Linked DNA regions of Homo sapiens: regions 2, 3, 4 and 5 are each linked to region 1. Evidence: fine-mapped expression QTL. A gene starts in region 1. Each other region holds a variant in brackets. All regions are shown on one strand. Distances are between the middles of the regions.

Region 1 (5,108 bases):
AAAGGAGAATAAGTCTAGGATGCCTGTCAGACTTGGTGGTCTGTTTGGGTAGAACACCTGTTGGTACCCCTAGATAAATGGAAAAACATGTCTATACTGGGAAAATGATGAGTTTAGGTGGGTAGTGTTGATGACTGAAGTGCCTGTGGGTATCCAGGTGGAACTGTGTAGCAAGTAGGATATATGGGTCTAGAGTTCAGTACCGGAGTCTGATGAGGAGCTACATATGTGCAATAGTTGAAGTCACAAATATAAATAAGATCACCTAGAAAAGCATATAGTGTGAAAAGAGAACAAGGGACAGATCCCTGGGAAATTTCAACATTTAAGATTCTGTAAAAAAACCACAATAGGGCATATATCCCTATAAAATCCCAGCTACTCAGGAGGCTGAGTCAGGAGGATTCCTTGAGGCCAGGAATTCAAGACAAGCCTGGGCAACATAGATAGACCCTGTTGTATAGAAAAGATCTTAAATGATGGTCATAAAAGAAAGTAGGAGGAAGATCAAGAGCAAGTAGTACCAAGGAAACCAAGAAAAGAGTTTCAAGAATGAGGTGTCATTGAGTATTATATACAGCAGCAATGTCAAGCAAGATGAGGGCTAAGAAGCATCCAATGGATATGGATAGTTTTAGTGCTGGGATGAAAACAGGTCACTATAGTCTGAAGAGTGAATAGGAAGTTAAAAATATGTAAGTATCTAATGCTGGCTACTTTTTTTGAAAAGTCATGACCAAGAAGAGAAAGAAAACAATAGGATAATAGTTAGAAGGAACAACAACATCAAAGGGATTTTATTTGTTTTTGCTTTTTAGATGAGGCATGGGAGGGGCTTCAACATAATTATATACCAACAGGAAAAAACGTGGAAGACAGGGAGAGGCTGAAAATACAGGTGTATATTATTCAAGGTCCAATCATATAACACTTGATGACGCTTATATTCTTGAAACTCCCTCCTTAGTTTCCTTGATGCTACTTGGTCTTAATCCTTTTCCTACTTTCATGACCATTACTTAAGATCTTTTCTATACAGAAGTCACACCGGATATTTGACCATGGAAAACTGAATACAAATAATTGTTATAAAGCTGTTTATCAGGCAATTTAAATGGTGAGAAGAGAACATAAGATATATAAAAGTAGCAATTATAAGAAGCATCTATCATTCTTAGGACTGGGAGACCAACAGGGGCCGGTAGGAGACGGAATTTGCAAAGTCTAAGAGGAGAGGGAGAGACTTTTTGCTAAAGGCAATCAAAAAATATTTTATGAAGATGGCATTTGAGCTGGGCTTAATTAAGTGGAAATGAGAGAATATTTCAGGTATTGCACATGACCTGGGAAATAGAAGCTACTTTATAAATATTTGTTGAAAAATGAAGTGATGAACAGATAAGCAAGAAAATCTAGAGAAAAGTGTGGAAAATTTCGGGAACAGTAAGTTTGGCTGGAGCTTGGATGGTGGAGATCGGTTGAAAATGTGGTTGCACAGATGGAGTAGAGATGGAGCAGACGGTCTTAAATTCCAGGCCAATGTGTTGAAAATTTATCTTAGGAAGCCGCTGACATTTGAGTAGGGAAGTGACAAGACTGGAACGATGATTTCTGGATGGCCGATTTGCCTGTGATACGTAGAAAGAACTGTAAGCAGAGAGCAACTGAATTTCTCAGCCAGAAGGCCAAAAAATGACGAGCTGGATTGAAGTGACAATAAGGATATGAGAAAGGGAACAAGCAGGAAACAAAATGTAAGCCGCCAAGAAGTGGCTGAAGTGATGACTGTGGTTGGGGGGCATGGGAGGAAGAAGGGAAATTGAAGCTCCTTCTGAGTCTAGGCAATTGGAAGAATGGCAGGAAGAGGAAAGAAAGAGGAAGAGAACGGGGCTTTGAAGGGCCATGAGAAGTTCTGTGGAAACGGATTGGACATCCTAGTGCAAAGAGATGTGGCAGTGCAGGTCTGCAGCTTAACGGAGCCTGGGCAGGAGGTGGCTGATGTGGGTTTCATCTGCATAGAGATTCCGGCTGACGCCTCTATTTGGAAGAATGCAATAGTATTTGCGTATTTGAACCCACAGCCAGTCCTTGGGCCAGAAACTGAGGCTGAACTGCCTCTTGATTTACAGCTTCCACCCCCAGTTTCCATTCTCCCCTAAAGCACTGGATTCAGGTAATCGCGGACGCACTTGGCTCCTCCCGCACTGGCCGCTGCCCTCGGCGGGACAATGGGCGCCCTAGCAGCCCCGAGCGTTCCCAGGGCGCAGGCGCGGCGCGGCGTGGCGTCGCCTAGCAACGAGGCACAACAAGGGACTGGGGGTTCGTCTGCTGGGTTTGCGGAGCAGCTAGCTACTCGGCGGGATCTCCCGGCAGGTAAAGGTAACCCCGTGGGGTGGGGAGGCCCAAGGCAGAGGCCTGAGGAAAACCTGGGAAAGGAGAAGGTGCCACGTGGGCGCAGACTGCTTGGGTCAGTGAGGCAACACCTTGCTGGGCGTTGTTAGTTTCTGCCTCGCGCCCGCAGGGTTAGACGGGGCTTGGGGTGGGTTTCGTAAGCATCCCGCCACCTCCCATTCAACAGGTGACAAAACTGAGGCCCGAGAGGGGATCTGAGGTGAGATCAAGTCAGATTCCGTTACTTGACTGTGAGCAACTCAGAAGTGGCCTCGATTTCTTGAGCCCTCCTCCTCTTTAAATCTTCTCAAAGCAGAACTCATTAGAAAATATTTAAAATCATAGGCTGAACGTTCACGAAGAACAAATACAAAGGACCAATCAACTCGTGAAAAAAAAAATGGCTCCAGTAGTCAAGAAGATGCATTTTTAGAGCAGAGTTGTTTGCATATCCAATGCCCTGAAGTTTTCACCCAGTTAATTTACTGCTAGAGATTTATCCTAAAGAAATAGTTGGGGATAATGGATGAAAATTTTATGTCCAAGGACGTTCTTTCAGCCCTGTCCATATTTCCAGAAAATTAGAAACAAATTTCAACAATCAGAGACTGGCTAGATAGCTAAGGGATTTTAAAATATTTGTAATGGCATGTTATGCTAATCCACTGGAGATTATTAAAGCAATGAAGGGAAACTGAGACTTCATGAATTTATTTGTTAATATAAGAATTTAGTAGGAATATGAACCCAGGAAGGGAAGGTGAAAGTAGGGGATAGAAGTTGAGGCAGGATGTTAAAATCACTTTAGAAAAACACACAAAGCCAGGTACGGTGGCTCACGCCTACAACCCCAGCACTTTGGGAGGCTGAGGCGGGTGGATCGCCTGAAGTCAGGAGTTCGAGACCAACCTGGTCAATGTGGGGAAACCTGTCTCTACTGAAAATACAAAAATTAGCCGAGCGTGGTGGCGGGTACCTGTAATCCCAGCTACTCAGGAGGCTGAGGCAGGAGAATCTCTTAAACCTGGGAGGTGGAGGTTGCAATGAGCCAAGATCAGGCCACTCTCCAGCCTGGGCAACAGAGTGAGACTCTGTCTCAAAAAAGAAAAAGAAAAAGAAAAAAAGAGAAGAGAGAGAGAGAGGGAGAGAGAGAGAGAGAAAGAGAGAGAGAAAGAGAAAGAAAAAGAAAAAGAAAGGAAAGGAAAGGAAAGGAAAGGAAAAGAAAAGAAATAGTATTGATCTCTCTGAGCTTATCTTTGGGTGATTTTTATTTTATTCGTTGTGCCCTTGTTTTCCAAATTCTCCACAGTGAAATGTATTACCCTTGTAAGGATCATCTCCATAGCTCATTGCCACCGACCTATGTCAGCTGTTCAGTCTCTCCTCCATTAACTATCATACCCAATATGGTGATAAAACACATAGGCTTTTTTTGGGGGAGGAGACAGAGTCTCGCTCTGTCACCCAGGCTGGAGTGCAATGGGGTGATCTCAGCTTATTGCAACCTCCGCCTCCCGGCCTCAAGCAATTCTCCTGCCTCAGCCTCCCCAGTAGCTGGGAATGCAGGCACATGCCACCGCCACTCCAGGCTAATTTTTGTATTTTTAGTAGAGACAGAGTTTTGCCATGTTGTCCAGGCTGGTCTTGAGCTCCTGACCTCAGGTGATCCACCCGCCTCAGCCTCCCAAAGTGCTGGGATTACAGGAGTGAGCCACCACGCCGGGCCATGATAAAACACATAGGCTTTTAACTTCATTCTTTAGCTTAGGAGACACTCTATCATTGCAATACTGTCTGTGTAAGCTCTTCTAACCTCTGCACTATGCAATTGCTCAAAAACACTATCCTGAAGTAGGAAAAATTAGTTCCTAAGTGAAAATCAGATGATTTAAAACAACTTTATGCAGGTGTAATTAAATTGCTTCCTGAATATTATTCATAAGCAATTATTTTATAAATCAAAGGCTGCTCTGTCTTGGAATTGGTTATAGAGTGCTATAAACTCTCTCTTTTTTTTTTCCTAGAGATTAATTGTAGGATAGATTCTCATTTGCCCAGAATAGTTTCTGCCTCTCTGCCTGAAATATTATAGGCACAAGGTCTAGGGCCTGTTCACTTTTCAAGCACCTAAGGAAGATGTTTGAGATTTGAAAAAAATGCTTATATTGGCTCTAAAATATGAAAAGAGAACTGAAAAATTAGTGTTAATTAAATGTTTTATTAATATAAATTTTTATTACATTTGAAAACAATTTTCTCATTTTACAAGAATTTCCAGGTGTATGTACTGATTGCTGAGTAATTTCAAATACAAATTTCAAAAGTTTTTATGATGCAAATGACATTTAATGGGCGATGCAGGCACATTTTAACATTTTAATATATTGGCTATTGTGTGAATAAGCTTGCCCAGGCCCTCCAAAGTCTTAAAAGTAGTGTGGTCTGAAGTTAGAGACCTAGAATAAATGCCTTTCAGAAGTATCTAGGAGTTTCTATGAAGACGTGGCTTTTTAATGTATGTGATAAATTCTGGTCAGTGTCTCTAATGCTAGGAGTTGCTTTTGACCCTTGACATGCAATTTGAGCTAACCCTGACACTGTAGATTCTCCCCAAGGATTTTCTACTTCCTAGGATTTCTACTGAGACTATGGTAATTTCCTTAAGGCTATGATATACCGTTTAAGATTGCTCCTACGATATACCGTTTAAGATGGCC
Region 2 (5,108 bases), 85 kb before region 1:
TGGATCAGGCTGCAGCGGAAGGATTCGCATGCAGCGCTATGAGAACACGTAGTAGGGAAGTAAACCTAAGTTAGGGGGTCAGGGAAGAAATCTTGAGGAAAAGACGAATGAGCAGAGATCTCAAGACTAAGTGGGAGCAAGAATTGCTCATGATAAAGTGCCACATTGTTGATGATAAACAGAAGTGTTACAACCTAATGTGATCATATAGCCATTCAGTGGAATGCCACCCAGCTATTATCATGATGGAGGTACTACCTTGGAAGCAAGTCCAACATGCATTGCTAAATGGTATAGCATTGTATTTTATATGATTCCATGTACATTAAAAATGTTCCATATGCATAGAAAAATGTTGGATGCACACACACATGTATATCCATTAGCATATATATTGATTGTTTGCAATGGGGGCTATGGTAGATTTTCACTTTCTACTTTAAGTATTTCTGCAATGTTTGAATTTTGTACAACTCTGTTATGTTTATAGTCATAAAAATAATAAAAGTAGTTTTTTTTTGAGACAAGGTCTCACTCTGTCACCCAGGCTGGAGTGCAGTGGTGCAATCATGGCTCACTGCAGCTTTGACCACCCCGGGCTCAGATGATCCTCCTGAGTAGATGAGACTATAGGTGCACTAGGTGCACACCACCATGCCCAGCTAGTTTTTTTTGTTTTGTTTTGTTTTTGGCAGACACAGGTTTCACCATGTTGCCTGGGCTGGTCTTGAACACCTGGGCTCAAGCCATCCACCCACCTCAGCCTCCCAAAGTGCTGGGACTACAGGCATGAGCCACCGTGCCCGCCTAATAAAAGTTATTTTTAAAACTATGGTCTACAGCTTACAATTGGCATGGGGAATGAAGTACCCACACACATATGCACACATAATACATTATGTGTTTCAAGTATGGATAATTCTGATGTTGGAGTATGTAGTCACCTCAAATGATATTTCAAAATATGCATTAAACCATGTGTTTTGAGACTATTTAGCATCATCATTATTAGTGAGTCTGAACTGATAAAACAAAAACCGCCTCTGATGGCACTAAATTTCAACTAAGTCTGGCTGGGAAGGGAGAGATTAGATTATTTCTTGAGATCTCCATCTTTTTCACCAGTTTCCTAAGGACTGTAGTTCATATGGCAAGACATTTTGTTAAAGGGATTGAAAACCTTCTGTAGGTCCAGTGAGCCATGGGCCTTAGAAACTTACCAGGCTCTCATCCTTCAACATTGCCGAGAGTTTGTTAAAACTACCATAGAGAATTGCTGGGCCCAGTGGGTCTCAAACTTTCATGTGTATAGGAATCACTGGGAAACCTGTAAAATAATGGATTCCCAGGCTCCACTTTGGATCTGCTGAATAAGAATTTTGGAGGAAGGCTCGGGATCTGCATTTTAACAAGGTCGTTGGTGATTCTGAGCAAAGGAGCCCTGGACCCCATGTTAGGAAACATAATCCCCTTTGAATCCAACCAATCAACCTCTGCCTTGACAAAGAGGGTGTTGCTGGTTTGAGACGAAGAAAATCCAAGAACAAGAAATCCTCTAGTAGAAATTTCCTTCCTAACGGATTTTGATGAGTAAATAAAAGGAGAATCTGAATCCTTTTGGCAGAAATGCTTTTCCTCTTTCCTTTTTCTCAGATTTTACAAAAGGCATCTCAATAATAGCGGTTTTAACTCCTCATCCACTTTCTTAGTGAACATTGGCTTATTAATTTAAAACAGTTCCTTTGTCATTGGATATAGTTAGCACCCTTCGTGTTCTTAGGACAGTTGTGTGATTATGTCACAGGGAACCCATTTTAATGGTGGGGTGTGGTGTGGAGGGGAAGTCCTGTCGGTAAAGAGAGAGCACTGTACTTTCCTGATCTTACACTGAAAATTATCAATGGTATAGTCACAACAGTGACCAATTTATAGAGGAGACCACTGCAGCCCTGTTATTATACCTATTTTTATCATTTAAATATTACCTAATATTTTTAAAAAATTCATATTTTTTAGTTTAAGAAAGAGTACATTACTTTTGTGACATTAAAATTAGTGAATTTATTTAAAAATGAATTAGATAACTGCATATGTAATAGAAATATTACTTTATAAAATTATATGACAAATACAAAATAATTATACTTAATACAAAGTCTGTGCCACCTGTGAATTTGCAAGCACAGAATCAATCAACTCATTTTTCTTTTTTTGAGATGGAGTCTCACTCTGTCACCCAGGCTGGAGTGCAGTGGCGTGATCTCAGCTCACTGCAACCTCCGCCCCCTGGGTTCAAGCAATTCTTCTGCCTCAGGCTCTCGAGTAGCTGGGATTACAGGTGTGCGCCTGACGTCCAGCTAATTTTTTGTATTTTTAGTAGAGAGGGGGTTTCACCACGTTGGCCAGGCTGGTCTCAAACTCCTGACCTCGTGATCCGCCTGCTTTGGCCTCCCAAAATGCTGGGATTATTAGGCGTGAGCCACCGTGCCCAGCCAAATCAACTAATTTTTATTACTTTCCACTCTCTTTCTTTTTCTCACTTTCAACAAATACTCAGC[G/A]AAGCAACAGGAAATATTGCCACCCTTTTCAGAAGGCCCGGATTTCCCATCATGACATAAAATGAGCAGGTTTGAAGATGGAATAATGTAAATGATTACGTTTTTCCTCCCCTCCAAATAATTATTTCTAATCCCGAGTAAATCTCCAATAAATATTTTAAAATAGCATTGCTTATTTGCCCTGATCCCAAAAGAAGTATGTATTCATTTTTTTTTACAGATTATTAGCCAGGTGTGGTGGTGCATACTTGTAATCCTAGCTACTCGTGGTGGCACATACCTGTAATCCCAGCTACTCGGAAGGCTGAGGCAGAAGAATTGCTTGAACCCAGGAGGCTGAGGTTTCAGAGAGCCAAGATTGCACCACCACACTCCAGCCTGGGTGACAGAGCAAGACACTGCCTCAGGAAAAAAAAAAAAAAAAAAAAGTCAGAAAAGTATAGAAAATAAAATTATTTACCATTATTAACGGTAATTAACAGTTAATTATTTTAATTTTATTTTCACTATCTAGAAACTATCTCACTATCTAGAAACTACACTATTTGGAAACTACAGTTAATGATTTAGTGCATTTCCTTTCAATTTTCATATTACTATACATGAAATTATATTTTATATCATAAAATTTATACAATTATGTTTTTTTAAATAGTCAATTCAATACCAAGAACATTTTACCAAGCCATTAAATATTCTTTGAGAATGAACTTTAAAATTGGGTCTCCAGTTTCCCACCATCTGGGGCTACCATAGTTTAAGTAACTCTTCCCCTATAGTTGGACTTCTCAGTAGCTTCCACATTTTTTCTAATAAAAATAGGATTAAAAATATTTTATTGGCTGCCCTCAGAGTTCTGTTTAGAGAGGAAATTATCTTTGTTCAGGAAACTTGCATGATGAACTGCTTTCATTGGTCAAGGAACTTTCAGAAAATGAATATCAAGTCCAATTTGAAGGTGTTTGTATTGTTGCGATTTAAAACACTCTCTCCTACCTCAACCCAACATAATGAGCTGCACTCCTTTGCTTTGTGTGAGAGGTTTGAGGGAGAATCAAGGAAAGGGTTTGAGTTATACGGGAGTCATGCATGAGATCGAATGTCTAGAGGTGAGCAGAAGTGACAGTGAAGTGTTAAGTGCCCAGGAATTTGCAGAAATATCAGAAAAGGGCGCTGTGCTTCCCTAAGGACATAGAACTAAAGGCTCAGGCCAATTTTATTTTAATTTTAAAAGGTCAAGATGACCTCAGCTGACATCTATGAAAGAAATAACACTGACAAAAGAGCACAAAGTTGGATTTTGTTGTTTTGATCCATTGGAGTGTCTTTGTCTTCTCACAGAGGAGATTTGAACACATACATGTATGTTATCTCGTGTCATGCTTTCGGTTAAAAAATACTCTTCATGCTCTTAGAATTTTATTTTTTATTTTTTACTTTAGTTATAATGACTATGTTGACTTTGCTCTTTACACCCTCCAGTGATTTGGAAGTCACATATTGTCATAGGTCAGGATCCCCAAGAAACAACCGGAGATCTGCACGTGGAGGTTTGCTGGAAAGTGTACTCCAGCGGCAGCATTTATAAGGAGGTGAGGGATGTAGGATTGAGCTGAGAGAGAAGTTGCCTCAGCTAAACTTATATGGAGCTCTGAGATTGAGATGGCCCTTCCAGAATGTTCCAAACTGAGGTGTGGGGGTGGAGGGGGTCGAGGGGCAGCTAGGTATATAATATTTATATTCCTGCATTGGCCAGGCATGGATGTGGGCTGTGCTTGGAGAGGGATCATGTTTTAGGAGCAAGAAAGCTCCTCCAATTGCAGACAAGTCCTGGGGAGGGACTCAGCTGTGAGCCTTCAGCAGGCAGCACTCCCAGCAGCTGGAGGAATAAATGCCTCCCTTCTGAAGATGGGATCTGAGCTTATTATGTTTCCATTAACACTTAAAGTAGAAGTGTTAGTAGAGTCAAAAATACCCAGACTTCTTTTCTCTCATTTTATTGTCAATAATTACATTATATTTTAACGTAAAGGATCATTGACTTGCTCTTGGGTCAAATGAAAAATGTAACAGGGTTTTATTCCTTTACTTCCCAGTTTGGGTTAATATAATCTGGCATTTTAGACTGACATAGTTAACAACACCATGTGGTTGTGTAGAAGCATTATTTTCCTTGTCTTTAAGAATGATGTTTGTCATTAATGTTGCATTTTATAACCATTCCAACATCTATATAGAGTATAGAGTTATCTCTGTCTCTATTGTTGCGATTTAGAACAATCTCTCCCACCTCAACCCAATACAAAGAGCTGCACTCCTTTGCTTTGTGTGAGAGGTGTGAGGGAGAATCAAGTCATAAGACTTAAATATGAATTTTCTCCACTATCTTGATATGAATGAATAAATGAATGAATTAACGCATGCATGCATGAATGAACAAAAAATGAAAGCCCCAGAGCTGAGGAGAATCACACCTACTTTGCTGTTAGCCCATAAGCCAACATTCGCAAACTTGCATTGATACTGCAAAGCCCATATTTTAAAAATCTG
Region 3 (5,108 bases), 29 kb before region 1:
ATGTTTTCAATATATTCACTCCATTCTAGCTAGTTAAAAAATCAAAACATCTCTCACCCCCATCTATGCTCTGGGAATTTTTTTTAGCTTACAGCTCCGTTGCAAGGCCTCATGGAGTTTTGCACTGCATATGGACAGCTTAGTAGTCAGCCAAAAGCTCAATAGAACTTTGTGTGGATTTGCAGGTTTCTGGAGCTCTCCACAGTTCCCTCTTCCCCAATTTTCTGCCCTGCAAACTCCATTTACCTCGACATTCCCAAATTCCAATCCCTCTCTCCTCAGCTCATGAAACTATTGTGGTCCACTTGGTTCCCTCTCACTGAAAAATGAGCTGACAATAGACAGATTAATAGGAGAAAGAGGAACGCAAATTTATTTAGTGTGCACTGAATGGGGGAATTGCAGGAGAATGATTACCCTATAACCCAGTGAGGACCAGATGTTATGCACCCTTCTTCACAGTGGTAGAGGAGAAAGGGATGTAGAAGTGAATGCTTCTCAGGGGAAATGAATGAGCCCAAAGAACAGGGCCTGAAACAAAGTTCTTCTGAGCTCTGGGGGGAAGTGGTGGGAAGGTGAGGAACAGAACTTCACTGTGAACAAAGATCGTCTTAGTATGCAGATAAAGCCTCCCAGGTAATCTCTCAGACCTGCCCTCAGGAAAATAGATGAAAAGTTTGTTAAGGAGTGGTAACTCCCAGTATCTTCTCTGGTAGTTAATCCTTCCTGGTTGTTTGATGTGATTCCTAGGAAGGAGGTCTTAAGACAACCGCATTCTTTTTAGAAAGAAACTTTCTTAATCAGATGGAAATTCCAAAGATAGTCACTCTTGGTGCTTAGGGAAAGTAAGCAGATCAGATAAACAGGCAAGCAGGGAAAGGTCAGAGAGAGACCTCGAGGCTACTTCCTTCATTCAGCCAGCATGTCAAAATGGTATTTTGGGGTACTGCTTGCTGAGCGTAATAGTTTTAATCTGTAAAGTGCCTCTAGGTGAAAACGATGATCATCAGTTTCACCATATTTGTTCTGCAATATCTAAAAACTGTTGTTTCAAATCCCATCAAAAAGTGGGCTAAGGACATGAATAGACAATTCGCAAAAGAAGCTATACAAATGGCCAACAAACATATGAAAAAATGTTCAACATCACTAATTATCAGGGATATGCAAATCAAAACCACAATGAGATATCATCTTACTCCTGCAAGAATGGCCATAATAATAATAATAAAAAAAATAGATGTTGGCATGAATGCAGTGAAAAGAGAACACTTTAACACTGTTGATGGGCATGTAAACTAGCACAACCACTATGGAAAACAGTGTGGAGATACCTTAAAGAGCTAAAAGTAGAACTACCATTTGATCCAGGAATCCCAATTCTGGGTATCTACCCAGAGGAAAAGAAGTCATTATGTGTAAAATATATGAATACGTACACATGCATGTTTATAGCACCACAATTAATAATTGTGAAAATATGGAACCAGCCCAAATACCCATCAATCAATGAGTGGGTAAAGAAAATGTGGTATATATATATATATATATATATATATATATATATATATATATATATATACACACTATGGAATACTACTCAGTCATAAAAAGGAATGAAATAATGGCATTTGCAGCAACCTAGGTGGAATTAGAGACCATTATTCTAAGTGAAGTAACTCAGGAATGGAAAACCAAACATTGTATGCTCTCACTCATAAGTGGGAGGTAAGCTATGAGGATGCAAAGGTGTAAGAATGATATAATGAACTTTGGGGACTCGGGAAAGAGTGGGATGGTGGGGTGAGGGATAAAACACTACACACTGGGTACAGTGTACAGTGCTTGGGTGATGGGTGCACCAAAATCCCGGAAATCACTACTAAAGAACTTATTCATGTAACCAAACACCACCTGTTCCCCAAAAACTCATTGAAATAAAAAAATAACCTCCCCAACCAAATAAAAACTGTTGTTTGTTGCAGATAATTTGCCCAATTTTCCAGTTGTTTATGACTAGTTCTGTATCAGGTTCTCTGTCATGGCTCAAAGAAGAAATATATATTTTCTCTTGGTTTCATCATTGAGCCACAGAATCACATAAAAATGACCTATACCGTGGGCTTTTTAGATATATGATCCAATAAAATTCTTTAAGACAGTATCAGTTGGATTTTTCTCCTGTCTACAACCAAAATGTGTATAAGTGGGACTCTATATAATGACTTGGATTTGCTGCCAAAAATGGAAATATTTAGTATTCTACCATTTTACCTATGTTCTTTTTTCAAATTGATCTTTATCAATGCAAGCAGTGCTCTAATTTAGTTGTCACCTTCTACACACATTTACTGAATACCTAAATATAATTTAGATGCTATGCTAGAAATGAAGAGAGTAAGGGTAAAGAGCTTCCTGCTCTCAAGACATTATCAGTTTATTAAGGAAAATCTGCATATAAGCAAATAAAAACAATACAGTTTGTTTTGGGTTGAATCACATCCCCCAAAAAGATATGTTGAAGTCCTAACCTCTGGTACTTGTGAATGTGATTTTTTTTTTTTTTTCTGAAATAGGGTCTTTGCAGAGGTAATCAAGTTAACATGAAGTCATACTGGATTAGGGTAGGCCCTAAGCTGATGACTAGTGTCCTAATAAAATGGGGGGAAATTTGAACACAGATGCAGAGAGGATAATACCATGTGGAGAGAGGAGAATGCCATGTGGAGACAGAAGCACAGAGACACACAAGGGAGAAGATCACATGAAGACAAAGGCAGATATTAGAGTGATGCATCTACATGCCAAGGAATACCAGAGATTGCCAGAAACCACAAAAAGC[T/C]AGAAAGAGCCGAAGGAAGGACTTGGAGAGCCTTGAGGAGAACAAGGACGTGGCTACACCTTGATTTCAGATTTCTAGCTTCCAGAACTATGAAAGAATAAGTTTCTCTTGTTTTAAGCCATCCAGTTTATGCTACTTTGTCACAGTAGCCCTAGAAAACAAATATACAGTTTTGTGTATACAATGGTGGAGGTACATAGTAAAGCAGCAGCTACTAGGAGGGATTAGAAGGACCTGTTAATAGATTTTTATCTAGGTACTTTGTATCAGTCAGGACAAGCTAGTCAAGGAGGCAGAGCAGAAAAATATTTGAGGAAATATGGCCAAAAATTTCCTTAAATGGATTAAAGTCATGAACCCTCATATCCAAGATTCCCAAGTCTCAGTAACTGAAGACAACAAAGATTTATTTCTCATGCACACAAAGTTCACTGAGGCTCTGGGAGATCTGCCTCAGCTTTTTAAGACAATGTCACACCATTCTCGGTATGGTCCCCAGTGCAGGACTCTTTAGAAGAGCAGTCTTTGCTTCAGAGTTTTGTCTTTTGGTGGCAAAGACCCTGCCCTGTCTGTACTGTGGTCTGATGGCTCCTGCTGCCCAGTCCTGCTTTCTCCCTTTTGCCTTTTGTAACTTTTACTTCATAATTAAAGGTTTACACCCCTAACTCTATCACCACAACTACTTCCTGGAGAATCTAATGTGTGACATGTCCCTTCCTTTTTCACCCCATCATCATGGAAGGAACTTGGAAATCAAAGTTAAACAAATTGAGAAAGGTCATTTCCCCACTTTTTGGCTCACAAAGAAGTATTTTCCACTAAATTCAGAGCACATTTTAATGAAAACAGGCCTAGGTAGGAGGCAAATATTCATTTAGCATAGTAAGAGGCTGTCTTAGTCTGTTTTGTGTTGCTATAAAGAAATATCAGAGACTGGGTAATTTATTTAAATAAAAGGTTTATTTGGTTCATGGTTCTAATGACTGCAAAGTTCAATATTGGGCATCTACATCTGGTGAGGGCTTCAGGCTGCTTCTATTCATGAAAGAAGGTGAAGGGGAGCTGCATGTGCAGAGGTCACATGAGAAGGGGGGATGTTCCAGCTTTTTAACAACCAGCCCTCATAAGAACTAATAGAGTGAGAATTCATTCACCTCTGAAAGAAAGCATTAATCAATTCATGAAGGATCTGCCCCCATGATCCAAATGACCCCCATTAGCCCCAACCCCAATGTTAGAGATCAAATTTCAATATGAGGTTTAGAGGGGACAAACACCCAAACCTTTGCAAGGGTATTATTTTGTAAGACAAATGGCCTAAGTCATAGTAATAGGAGGAAAAGGCTGTCATTGGTCTTCAGAAGAATATGAATTCTTAGTGGAGTCAGAGGAAGCCAGCTGTGGCCTATCCCTGGGGAGAGAGAGAGTTCAAATGGTCTTGCTTAACATTTGCCTCTTTTTCTTCTTTCAGAGCCAGGCCACAGTCGGGCAGAGGAAAACCCATCAACACCCAAGTGAGGATTTTGTTGGCAGATTTTATAAACCCAAAAAGACCTGAGATTAAGGTTCTTTTATTTTGTGGGATAATATTCGCCCAAATTGGCCATATAAAGAGATCTTAGCCCCCAAAATCCCAACCAACAGTTTTCTGGTGCTGTGCTACTTTAGGCTGTTTACTAGAACACCCGAGTAATATTTTCATTTTTTATTTTTTCAAAGGTTGCTTTTTTTTCCATCCCAGTTCAGTGTGTTTAATCTGGGGAGAAAAACACATGGCAGTACTTAGAAAGGGGTTGCTTCTGTTCCTAGCACTTGGCTGCTCTTTGTCTGAGCTTTTGTACCAACAGAGAGAACAACTGTCCAACTTTCTCTTAATGCTCCTTCCCTCAAAAGGGCCATGTTTAGTGCAAGGAGAAGGGATCCTTGTTGTACTGGTGATACATACATCTGTCTTTGCGTCTAGGATTTCTTTGGTGCAAACTGGTCTAATTTTATGAACCTCAGTTGTTTGCTTATTTTATAAAGTAGTTTCTCAAAGTCTGAAGTATGAGTCTCATAAAACTCAAAATGCTTCCACAAACCCCTTGGGCTAAGGTACCATGCTATCTTCCCAGCCACATCTCCTGCCCCTTCTTATGGGCTCCATCAGCTCATGTCATGATAACTTTCTTGCCGTCTACAAAATGTATTTTGTCAATATTATTTCCTCTACTTGAAATGAGATATACCCGTTGTCAACCTGGCTAAAATGTGATCATTTTGTGGA
Region 4 (5,108 bases), 250 kb after region 1:
AAAGAAGGGCCTGAGCCCAGGCGCATTTAGCAGCTGTTCCTGGTTAAACAGCAGTGTGGCCTTCTCACTGACCTCTCCCAACGCCACAGTCGCTCCCTGCCCAGAAGAAACCACGGAAGGTACGTTAGCTTCTTTGGGCTGCACCAACAGCTATGCCTTTAGTGGGTCACTCCTGTACCCGTCTGTGTCCCGAAGGCCTGACAAACCAAGAAATTTAGCCCCCCACCCCCACCCCCTCAAGCTGGCTTCTAAAGCAAAACCTTAAAATGCTTTTTTTCCTTAGGGAGGAAATTGTCAATGGAGTTTACTCTCTAGGTAAGCCCCAAAAAGTCTTCACACGGCGGAAATACTGAAAAAGAAAAATAGCACAAGAAATACGGCTATAATATTAAGACAATTTTAAAAAGAACAAGTGGTGTTTAATAATACTCAGGGCCAACTTGAAGAAAAGATGAGGGAGACAGAAATGTTGGGTGTGTCTAAAGGGAACTTCAAAAGGTTTTAGAGCTTGTCTGTCTTGCCTAATATTAGCTGGAAATTTCCTTTCCCTTAATGCAAGGCCACCACCCTCATTACTTTTATATGTGTCATCAATTATTAGGATTCGTTTTTGACCAGATAAAAGAAAATGATTTTCTTAAAGTAATAGAGAAGTTGGTCCAGGAATAAGGCAGTTGGCCAAGGATAAGGAAGATGGGTGTGTGTCTGAAAAGGACTGTTTGCAAGGAGAATAAAGGGGAGAAAATAGATTCCTCACAGGGTGAAAGTCTTTCCCATCTGCAAAAATAACGGAAAAGTCACCCCTGACCTTTCTTTTATCACATTCACAACTCTACTTCTTAATAAGTTCCTCCAGATAGGGGTCTCAATCAAGTTCATTGCCTTTATTCAGTCTTCATCAGTCTGCACCCCAATCTCACATTGAAACTGTTTTTAATCATTTTACCAGCAATTTCCATGTCCCCCAATTTAGGGCCAATTTACAGACCTTAGTTTGCCTAAAATTGCAGTAACAGGCCCACCATTCATCCTGATGGCAAAAGCAGAATCCTTAGTATCATCTTTTCCTTCTCTCTTTTTCCAATTCCCACATTCAATAAGTTCAGAAATCCTAGTAATTCTTTCCAAAATCTCTCTCCAATCTGCCCAGTCACCACCCAGTTCAGTCCTTCACAATATCCCAGCTGTTCTGCTGCCACGGCCTTCTGCTCAGTCTCCCTGCCTGTAGTCCTGCCTTGCTTCCATCCATTCTCCACAGCGAAGCCCCAAGCACCCTTCGTAATTGGTAAACTGGATCATGCTATCCCCCTGGGTAAAACCGTTTGTCGGCTTTCTATTCCCAAATTAATTATAGGTAAGTTATAAAGATGTGCTGCTATACGAGTCAGTTATATATATTATAAAGAATGCATAGGACACACAATTTTTCTAAAAAAAGATAAAAAATGTAGATGATAGTTCTGATAGTTTCTTCCTATACCCCTATAAGGTTTATCCAATCTGCAAATGACTATCTATATGATGCCCATCTCCATAACACAGTTTACAAGGTCTTCTTTGATCTAGATCCCATCTACATTTCCATCCTTACCATCCCTCTTTACTTCATCCTTAATAAAATCCTTTTTTAAATAAAATTTTTTATTTCTTCAAATTTCATGATGATCATTCTGTTTCATGTTACTGTCTACCTCTAATCCTCATTTTCAATCCTCCATATGCCCCATGGAAAAAAGGATATGTTGTACCTACTGTTCTGTTGCTAGTGTTTAATGCTAGCAACAGACAGAACAGTACATAGAAGAGATATTCCAAGCACACTTCCCAGCACACAACAGGTGCTTAATAAATGTGTGTTACAGACATGAACATCGTGCTTCTTTAAGGCAGCCACGTTTTCTATGAAATAACTCAAAATCAGAGAAAGCTGATCCATAGAAAATGAAAAGGATGAAGATGTGCAGAAGGAAAGAGAAAGAAGCACAGGAAAGACAGAGACAATGTCCAGGCATCTTTCTAGATCATGATGTGTTGACTAGTGTACAAGTTTAGCTGCTCTACTGTAAAAAGTTTACAAATATGAGATACAAGTTTATTTACTTCTCATAGAGACAAAACAAAGCTGGATAGGTATTCCAGGCTTGGTATGGGCTCTAAATGATGTGGGGGACTTCAGTTCCTCTTGTGTATTTGCTCATCTATCCTCAACGTGTAGCTTTCAACTCATGGTTCATAGTAGCTGCTCCAACTCCTCCTGTTGCCTCAGCATCCCAACCAGTGGAAAGAGGGGAAGTGACAATATAGGACATGTCTTTCTCCTTCAAAGACTGAGTCTCAAAGCTTGGCCTCATTTCTGGTCACAACCCATTACTTAGAAATTAGTTTCATAGCCACACAGAGCTGCCATGGTGAGCAGGAAATGTAGTTTTTATTCTGGGTAGCTATGTGCCCAGCTAAAATCCTGGAGTGCCATTATGAAAGGAAGGAGAAAATAGCTATCAGGGGAGAATCTTCAGTTTCTACAACACTTGGCACTGCTGCCTCCTGAGGCCTCACT[G/A]CATTCCTGCTATCAGATTCTAGGAGATGCTCTGTATCCCATGATGTATCCCCCTTTTAATGTCTAACTTAGTTCAAATTGGCTTTCACTACTAAAACCAAAAGACTGTAAACAAATCCACAAAGGTACTGAGTCTCTATGCAATGACACTAGGTGCAGAATGCTACATGCACCAACCTAGGTATGTCAGGTGGGCTAGGTTTTGCTGCAGTAGCAACCCCCAAATCTCAGCAGCTTCACACAACAAAAGTTTATTTCTGGTCCAGGTTACCCGTTCTATGAAGGTTTGCGGGGGAACTTTGTTCATCAGAGTCACTCCAGGTCCCCAGCTGACAGATGTCCTGCCCCAAGGTGTACGTCCACAATCATTACAGAATATGGAGGCAAAAGACAAACTGTGCACTGGCTCTTAAAACTTCCTCCCAGAGGTACCATGTCATTTTCACACATCTTTCATTCACTGAGCATGTCATATGGCCACATTTCACCTTGAAGAGGGTAGAGAAGTGTAAGCTATCATCTGCCTGGACGAACTAGAGAGTATCTGTGGTTTGCTCCACTGGCTCCCACAACCTAGGTATGGTGGAAGCTTTTCCGGTTAATTTTTATTTTTGTAAAGCATCCAGAAATTATAAAATGATCTACCTGTACCTTCCTTTCTTCTCTGCTCAAACTTGTCCAGCTGAAGAAGAAATGTACTCTCTAAGTCCTGGAGACCTCCAAGGCCAATGACAACATAATTCCCTCACATCATTTTAAATTTGAGCAGGGAAATATTATATAACAGATGATGCATTCTCAGCTTTGGTTCCATCTGGGACATCCCTTAACATTTTTAGGAGTCTCTGCATATATTCCTAGCACCATCTTGGATTTCTACAATGGGTTTATACTCAGGTGTAGTAGATAACAAGCTTCTGAAAAAGAAAAAAGGCCAGGATCAGGAGTGTGTAAGGATACAGAAAGACATTCTACCATGAGGTGCACACAGGGAAATCTGTTTCTAGGGCTGGCAAAGGCTAAATAAAAGTGAGATTCAGTGGACACGAGGAAATCTCTGTCTACCCCCGAAATGCCTTCAAATGACTGCACTAAGGCTCAAATGCCAGATTCAAAAAAATCCCTTCCTGTGATTTACGGCATTACCTTTCAAGAACCCTAATCAAATGCTGGGGAGGGAATGATGTGGTTGCTCTGTGTTGCCCATACCTTAGGGGAGCAGATGTTTTCCTTTATGGCCTCTAGCTGAGACCAATGGCCCTGAAGTAATTGGCTTCTAAAGAGGGCAAAAAGGATAATTTGGAGCACTGGGCATTCTTTGAAGACATAGGTCTTGGTGGGGCATCCATGTGTTCACCATGAGGCCACTCCATGCCTGGGATGAGGCTGGGCTGTGGAGGCAGGACTAAGAAAGTAGATGCAAAAAGGCACACTGGAAGGTGCAGAACGCAGGCTGTGCTTGGGGCTGAGCCCCTAACATCCCATGGATTTGCTGGGGATATCCATGGGCTATTCACAGCTCTAGGCTTTTGTAAATATGTTCAACCTCCCAGAAGCACATTTCTGCCCCTCCTCTTGTGGTCATTATTTCCTCAGGACTGGCTTAGCTCAACATTGTTCCTTTTTTTTTTTTTTTTAACCCCCCGAGATAGAGTCTTGCTCTGTTGCCCAGGCTGAAGTGCAGAAGCACAATCTGAGCTAACTGCAACCTCTCCCTCCAGGTTCAAGCAATTCCCCTGCCTCAGCCTCCCGAGTAGCTGGGATTATAGGCACACACCACCACCCCCAGCTAATTTTTGTATTTTTCATAGAGATTAGGTTTCACCATGTTGGCCAGGCTGGTCTCGAACTCCCGACCTCTCTGCCTGCCTCAGCTTCCCAAAGTGTTGGGATTACAAGTGTGAGCCACCACTCGTGGCCAACATTGTTCCTTTTTTGAAGCTCTCTCTGTCCCCTCATTCTTATACCGACTTATGCCTCAATATAGCCCTCACTGAACCGGATCATAATTACTCACTCCTGTCTTTACTACACCAAGAACGTGCTAAGGGGCAGAGACTGCACATATTCATCTCCGTATTTCCACATACATAACACAGTCACCTGAACATGGTTGATGCTCGAAACACATTCCTTAAAGCAATAAACTAAAACAGCGTGATTTGACATTTTCTCAGTATTTCTGTGTTTATAGCTTCATATATAATTATGAAAAACAACAAGATTATTCAGCTTAAAAAATACCTAAGTAGTCAGATGTGGTGGTTCATGCCTGTATTGCCAGCACTTTGGGAGTACAAGGAGTTCGAGACCAGTCTGGACAACATGGTGAAACCCCATCTCTACAAAAATTAGTCTGGTGTGGTGACACATGCCTGTAGTCCCAGCTACTTGGGAGGCTGAGGTGGGAGGATGGCTTGAGCCCAGGAGGTGGAAGAGGCAGTGAGTCATGATTGCGCCACTGCACTCCAGCCTGGGTGACAGAGTGAGACTCTGTCTCAAAACAAAGCAAAAAGAAAACAAACTTAAGTGATTGTTCAGCATTATATAA
Region 5 (5,108 bases), 88 kb after region 1:
CTATAGTTTTTTCTCACTTTATCGAGGCTTAATTGACAAATGAATTATTATGTACATTTAAACATGATGTTTTGATATCTGTGTACACTGTGAAATGTTTACCACGATTAAGTTAATTAACACTTCTGTCACCTCAGAGTTCTCTTTCATTTTTTGTAGTTTCATGGTGAGAACATTGAAGATCTACTCTCTTAGCAAATGTCATGTGTACAATACAGTGTTATTAAATATAATATAATGTCTCCATGCTGTACATTAGATCTCCAGAACACAGCCCTTAGTCATCCCATGAAACTGAAACTCCTTTGTGAATGGATTCTATCTCTTCCATAGCCTGCACTGATTTGTGTTGATTTATTTGTCTTTCTTACTGAACAATGAGCTGTTTGAGATCTGGGACCACGCTTTTTTTTTTATCTTTATATCCGTAGAGCCTAGAATAGTATCAGGCTCATCAGGGGCAGTAAAAAATTATTTATTGATTAATAATATTAAAAATTACTTTAATTATTGAATGCTGTTTGTTGAAAGGAACAGATGTTTGACTCCTTTACAGTATGTCCAGGGAGAACAAATATAAACAAATGAGAATAATTATTCCTTCTTTGTACTGTCTTCACTCTCCCTCTTCCTCTGCACATTCTGGCAGCTCACTCCCCACTTCAAGATAAACCCTGAAGCACTCCTAGGATTTAAGAGGATTGTTGGCATGAGGAGAACACAGAGACTTTGGATTCAGACACAACTGGGCCTTGGTCTTCTGAATTGTAAATGAAAATGATGATCCCTGCCTCAAAGAGCTGCTGTAAGAGGAGAGATGGTGTCAGGAAAGTGCCTGACCATCACCTAGCACACTTAGGGGCTCAATGTGCGTCCCTTCTCTCTTCCCTTCTTAGCCTTTGGTCCATTGAGGGGTAGATTAGCCATAGCCCTGTTGTCCTGTTGCCTGTCTTTTGGTCAACCCTTCTTGTCTTATGACTATTAAAACTTTGGACTCCTGGAAATAGAATAAAATATTTTAACTGCATTCGTCTGAAAAGCCATTGGGAATATTTTATGTTAAAAAGAGTGAGACAATAGCAAAGACATGGGATCAACCTAAATGCCCATCAATGATCGACTGGATAAAGAAAATGTGGTACATATACACCACGGAATATTATGCAGCCACAAAAAAGAGTGAGATCATGTTCTTTGCAGAGACATGGATGGAGCTGGAAGTCATTATCCTTAGCAAACTGATGTAGGAACAGAAAACCAAATACTGTATGTTCTCACTTATAAGTGGGAGCTAAATGATGAGAGCACATGGACCCATAGAGGGGAACAACAACACACACTGGGGCCTACTGGAGGGTGGAGGGTGGAGGAGGGAGAGGATTAGGAAAAATAATGAATGGGTACTAGGCTCAATACCTGAGTGATGAGATAATCTGTACAAAAAAAAAAAAAAAAAAAACCCCATGACACAAATTGCCTATGTAACAAACCTGCACATATACCCCTGAACTTAAAATAAAAGTTAAAAAAAAATTTAAAAGAAGATCATAAAGGAAAAAAATAAATTAAAAAAGTGAGAGATACTGACAGAATAATGAGACATCGAGAACCATGGAGTGCTACATTTTTGAAAGGGAGAGGAGAGAAGAGATGGGAAAGAAGTAAGATCAATTACATGTGAAGTGTTCTAATATGGAGAAGAGAAAGGGGAAGTACGGATTTCTTTTTCCTGATGAATCTCATTACCATGCAGCATGTAAATTTGAAACTCTGTCTCCTGGGTGACCAGGCACCATATTACTTTTGGTTTCGAAGGCTTTAGTTGTACTCCCCTTAATGGCAAAACACTCATAGGAGACGTGATTAATTCGTTCCCTGGTTATCCACTCTCCTCCTTCCTTAGTCTTCACCGAAACCAACATATCTAACATTTCTTCTAAAGCTTTTCCTTATAGAGAACATTTGAATGTAAACATTTAAAAATAGCATTCACTAGATCTGTTTGTGAAATGTGTGATAAGTTCTGTCTACACTGTTCTTTTGTATTCAGACCAGTTTTCATGAACGTTCACTTGACTGAACATGAGTTTATTACACACATTTAAAAGTTAGTTGTTTTTCTGTCTCCTTTTTCATATCCTCTTTCCATGCTGATCATGTCTAGAGCCTTTTAGATATTTACAGCAAATGCTTTATTTAATACTTCTGTCACTCACACAATCTTGATCTACAGGATAATGATTTCCTAAAACATTTTTGTTTTTAAAATAATTTCCCACTACCCTCTTTTTACCCATAACTTAAACTGTTGTTGCTTCCTCCCCCAAATCTTGACTACTAAAGTCTTTCAGAAACAGATATTGTCTCTTAGTCACATGTAAACACCTTCTTACCTTCTTTTCTACAATTCATTCATTCAACAAATACTTATTGAGCGCCTTCTATGTGCCTGGAATTGTTCCAGTGCTGGAGATACAGCAGTAAACAAAAACCTTTGCCTTCATAGAACTTACATCCTAGTGAGAAGACAGACAACAAAGAAATACACACACTCACACACACTCACACAATCAGACACTACCCAGAACAAATCCTATCTCTACTTTGAACAACGCCTTGTTCCCATCCTTTTGGAATAAATTGGGTGGAATAGGACACCCAATTTGAATACATTTCTTTCAACATTGAACTCCTGGAGACTTTCACATCTTTATCACTCATGTGGAATTTATTGAATGCTGCCTGGTATTGTGATTATTTTCCACATAACAAAATCTTCTTGCTTAAATTGAAACCCCAAGAGGGCTGGGTTC[A/T]TGACCTGTATTTCTCCCACCAGCCTTGTCCTAAAATTATGTATTTCAATAGTTGATGGTATCAAAAAGGAGCAAGGGATTAAACTTTGAAAATGTCAATAAGCGATTTAGAGCCAGCCAAATATTCTATATGTTTACCTGCTCTCCTTTTCATCCACCTATGAATGTAGAAAAATAACCTTAGAGCTTTGGATCCCACAGTAAATCCCTGTTTCCTGAGGTAGTTTTGCTAAAGTTTCTGCAGGAGAGGTAAAAGTTCTGCTGTCTTTAACCAAAAACTGATGCTCTGAGAATTAATTTTACCGGAGTTAATTTTATAATTTCCAAGTGTTTATTTCCATATGCATGAAATGAAATTTATTTAAGTACTGAAGCCCTTATTAATATAACCTGGCAGACTTCATGGGAAAGAAGTCCAAAAGAAATGCTTCTATTTATAGCAATAAGAAACTACAGTTCAGGAGTTCCCGGAAATTCTCTCTTTTTAATCATTCATAAGATTGCATTTCCTGGAGGTGTATCAGATATTTTCTCCTTCATGCCAAATGACTCCTTGTTCTTACATCAGGCAGCACGCTCTGTGAGACACACTCCTGCCTCTGTTTTGTAGGTAACTCTGAATAGTCACTCTATTCAGTGACGAAGTATTGGACTGACTGTTGGAACTGAGCTCTCCAATCTTACACCACCACCTTGCAATTTTAGAAAACAGGTGAACCTATCTGTGCTTCCTGCACTTCTAATTGACCTTCCTAGTATTGGTTTCTAATTTACTAAAATCTTAACTATGTATGTGACAATGTCCAATTTATTATTTTTTTTTTTACAAATAAGAGAAAGGGGTTAAGATGATCTCTCTGGGAAATACTAACTTTTGCTTAGAGATTTTATTAGAATGCATGGTGGGTGCATTCAATGATACATGATTAACCTCTCTCTTTTACTTAGCTGCAGCAAATATAATATTTAATTAGAAAGTATAAAACTTTTTGTACTTGTTAAAACGAATATAGAGCTTTGTAATTCTCAAATAGCAGTTGACAGGATTATTTTTCTATTCTTTTCTTCAAAATAAAAAGAAAATTCATCTGGACCTCAGTCAATTCTTCCCTCCCACCTTGTGCTTCAAGTAATACTTAAAGTTAAATAATTCCCAAACCCCCTAATTTACTGCTAGTGTAACAGATGCTCAATATGCATGAGTATATAACAAGTGATTGACCGGGCATGGTGGCTCACACCTGTAATCCCAACACTTTGGGAGGCCGAGATGGGCGGATCACTTGAGGTCAGGAGTTTGAGACCAGTCTGACCAACATGCTAAAACCCTGTCTCTACTAAAAATACAAAAATTAGCTGGGTATGGTGGGGAATGCTGGTAATCCCAGCTACCTGGGAGGCTGAAGCAGGAGAATCAGCTTGAGGCTGGGAGACAGAGGTTGCAGTGAGCCAAGATCGCACTACTGCATTCCAGCCTGGGCAACAGAGCGAGACTTCGTCTCAAAAAACAAAACAAAACAAAACAAAACAGGTAATTCACCTGCCTGGTCTGGCCTAGCCCCATTTTCTTGATTTCTTGACCCTCTGACACATTTGTTGTTTTAAGTTCCTTGTTCTCAAGAAGGTAACAAAATAAAAGCTGCAATCAAAGCTACTGTTTAATCTTAATATTGTCAGATCCTATTATAATGAACAAGGTGTGTAAGAAAATCTGCCCTCAGAAAGCAGGCTAATGTCACGGAGAGCAGTGTGGTAGATATTTAGATAAGGCAACAATTCTTTTTAATAATAAACAGAAGCATTTATTTGCATATCACTGGTTAATTGACAAAATTCTACTGGTAAAATGGAAAGGAACTAGCAGCAGTGTTGACTGCAAGTCAGGTATTAGAAACAGCATTGTGCTCCTTGGAACTCCACCTACTCAAAGTCCCACCCAGGCCTGTTCTGGAGACTTCTCTCATCATGCAAAAGAGCTAAAGTCCTTGGGCAGGGAAGCAGGTCTGTGGTCACAGCTGGGGTTGTAGAACAGCCTCCCAGCCCACACTGGAGTAACCAAACTGTCTGGAGTCCTGGAAACTTAGGTTCTCATTTCGTTCATTTTTAGACCTTCTGCCCAAAGTCATGTTTGGCCATAGATGGTGCCTCTTGATCTGTCTCTGCGTGACTGTGGCTCAGCTGAGAGCCTGTGTGCTTCAAAACCAAAAAGGCATCTATAATGGTATCATTTATTAGACTTGCACCTTAGTAATTTTTTTTTTTTTTTTTTTTGAGACGGAGTCTCGCACTGTCACC

Direction of the effects. Positions count from the first base shown, and alleles are read on the strand shown. Sizes are in standard deviations (SD) of each study's normalised expression. Not every link is listed here.
For the expression in pancreas of the gene that starts at base 2,320 in region 1, G is the high allele of the variant in region 4 and A is the other (small effect, 0.29 SD a copy in GTEx).

The links. PIP is the estimated chance that this variant, and not a neighbour inherited with it, causes the effect. A credible set is the group of variants that fine-mapping cannot tell apart.
Region 2: its variant is the best candidate, but not a certain one, in a credible set for the expression of ARMC3 in blood mononuclear cells (TOPMed, PIP 0.75).
Region 3: its variant is the best candidate, but not a certain one, in a credible set for the expression of ARMC3 in whole blood (INTERVAL, PIP 0.54).
Region 4: its variant is the best candidate, but not a certain one, in a credible set for the expression of ARMC3 in pancreas (GTEx, PIP 0.55).
Region 5: its variant is the best candidate, but not a certain one, in a credible set for the expression of ARMC3 in whole blood (TOPMed, PIP 0.89).

The regions. Positions count from the first base shown.
Region 1 is chr10:22,925,734-22,930,841 of GRCh38, forward strand. ARMC3 (armadillo repeat containing 3) reads left to right here and starts at 2,320. Exons shown (of 19, transcript NM_173081.5): 1 at 2,320-2,373.
Region 2 is chr10:22,840,865-22,845,972 of GRCh38, forward strand. No RefSeq gene overlaps it. Among named protein-coding and RNA genes, the nearest start is that of ARMC3, 85 kb to the right of the region's middle. The variant G/A (reference allele first, on the strand shown) is at 2,559.
Region 3 is chr10:22,896,793-22,901,900 of GRCh38, forward strand. No RefSeq gene overlaps it. Among named protein-coding and RNA genes, the nearest start is that of ARMC3, 29 kb to the right of the region's middle. The variant T/C (reference allele first, on the strand shown) is at 2,843.
Region 4 is chr10:23,175,248-23,180,355 of GRCh38, forward strand. No RefSeq gene overlaps it. Among named protein-coding and RNA genes, the nearest start is that of PTF1A, 15 kb to the right of the region's middle. The variant G/A (reference allele first, on the strand shown) is at 2,558.
Region 5 is chr10:23,013,451-23,018,558 of GRCh38, forward strand. All of the region lies in intron 16 of ARMC3 (armadillo repeat containing 3), which reads left to right. All of the region lies in intron 2 of LOC107984215 (a long non-coding RNA gene), which reads right to left. Among named protein-coding and RNA genes, the nearest start is that of MSRB2, 80 kb to the right of the region's middle. The variant A/T (reference allele first, on the strand shown) is at 2,814.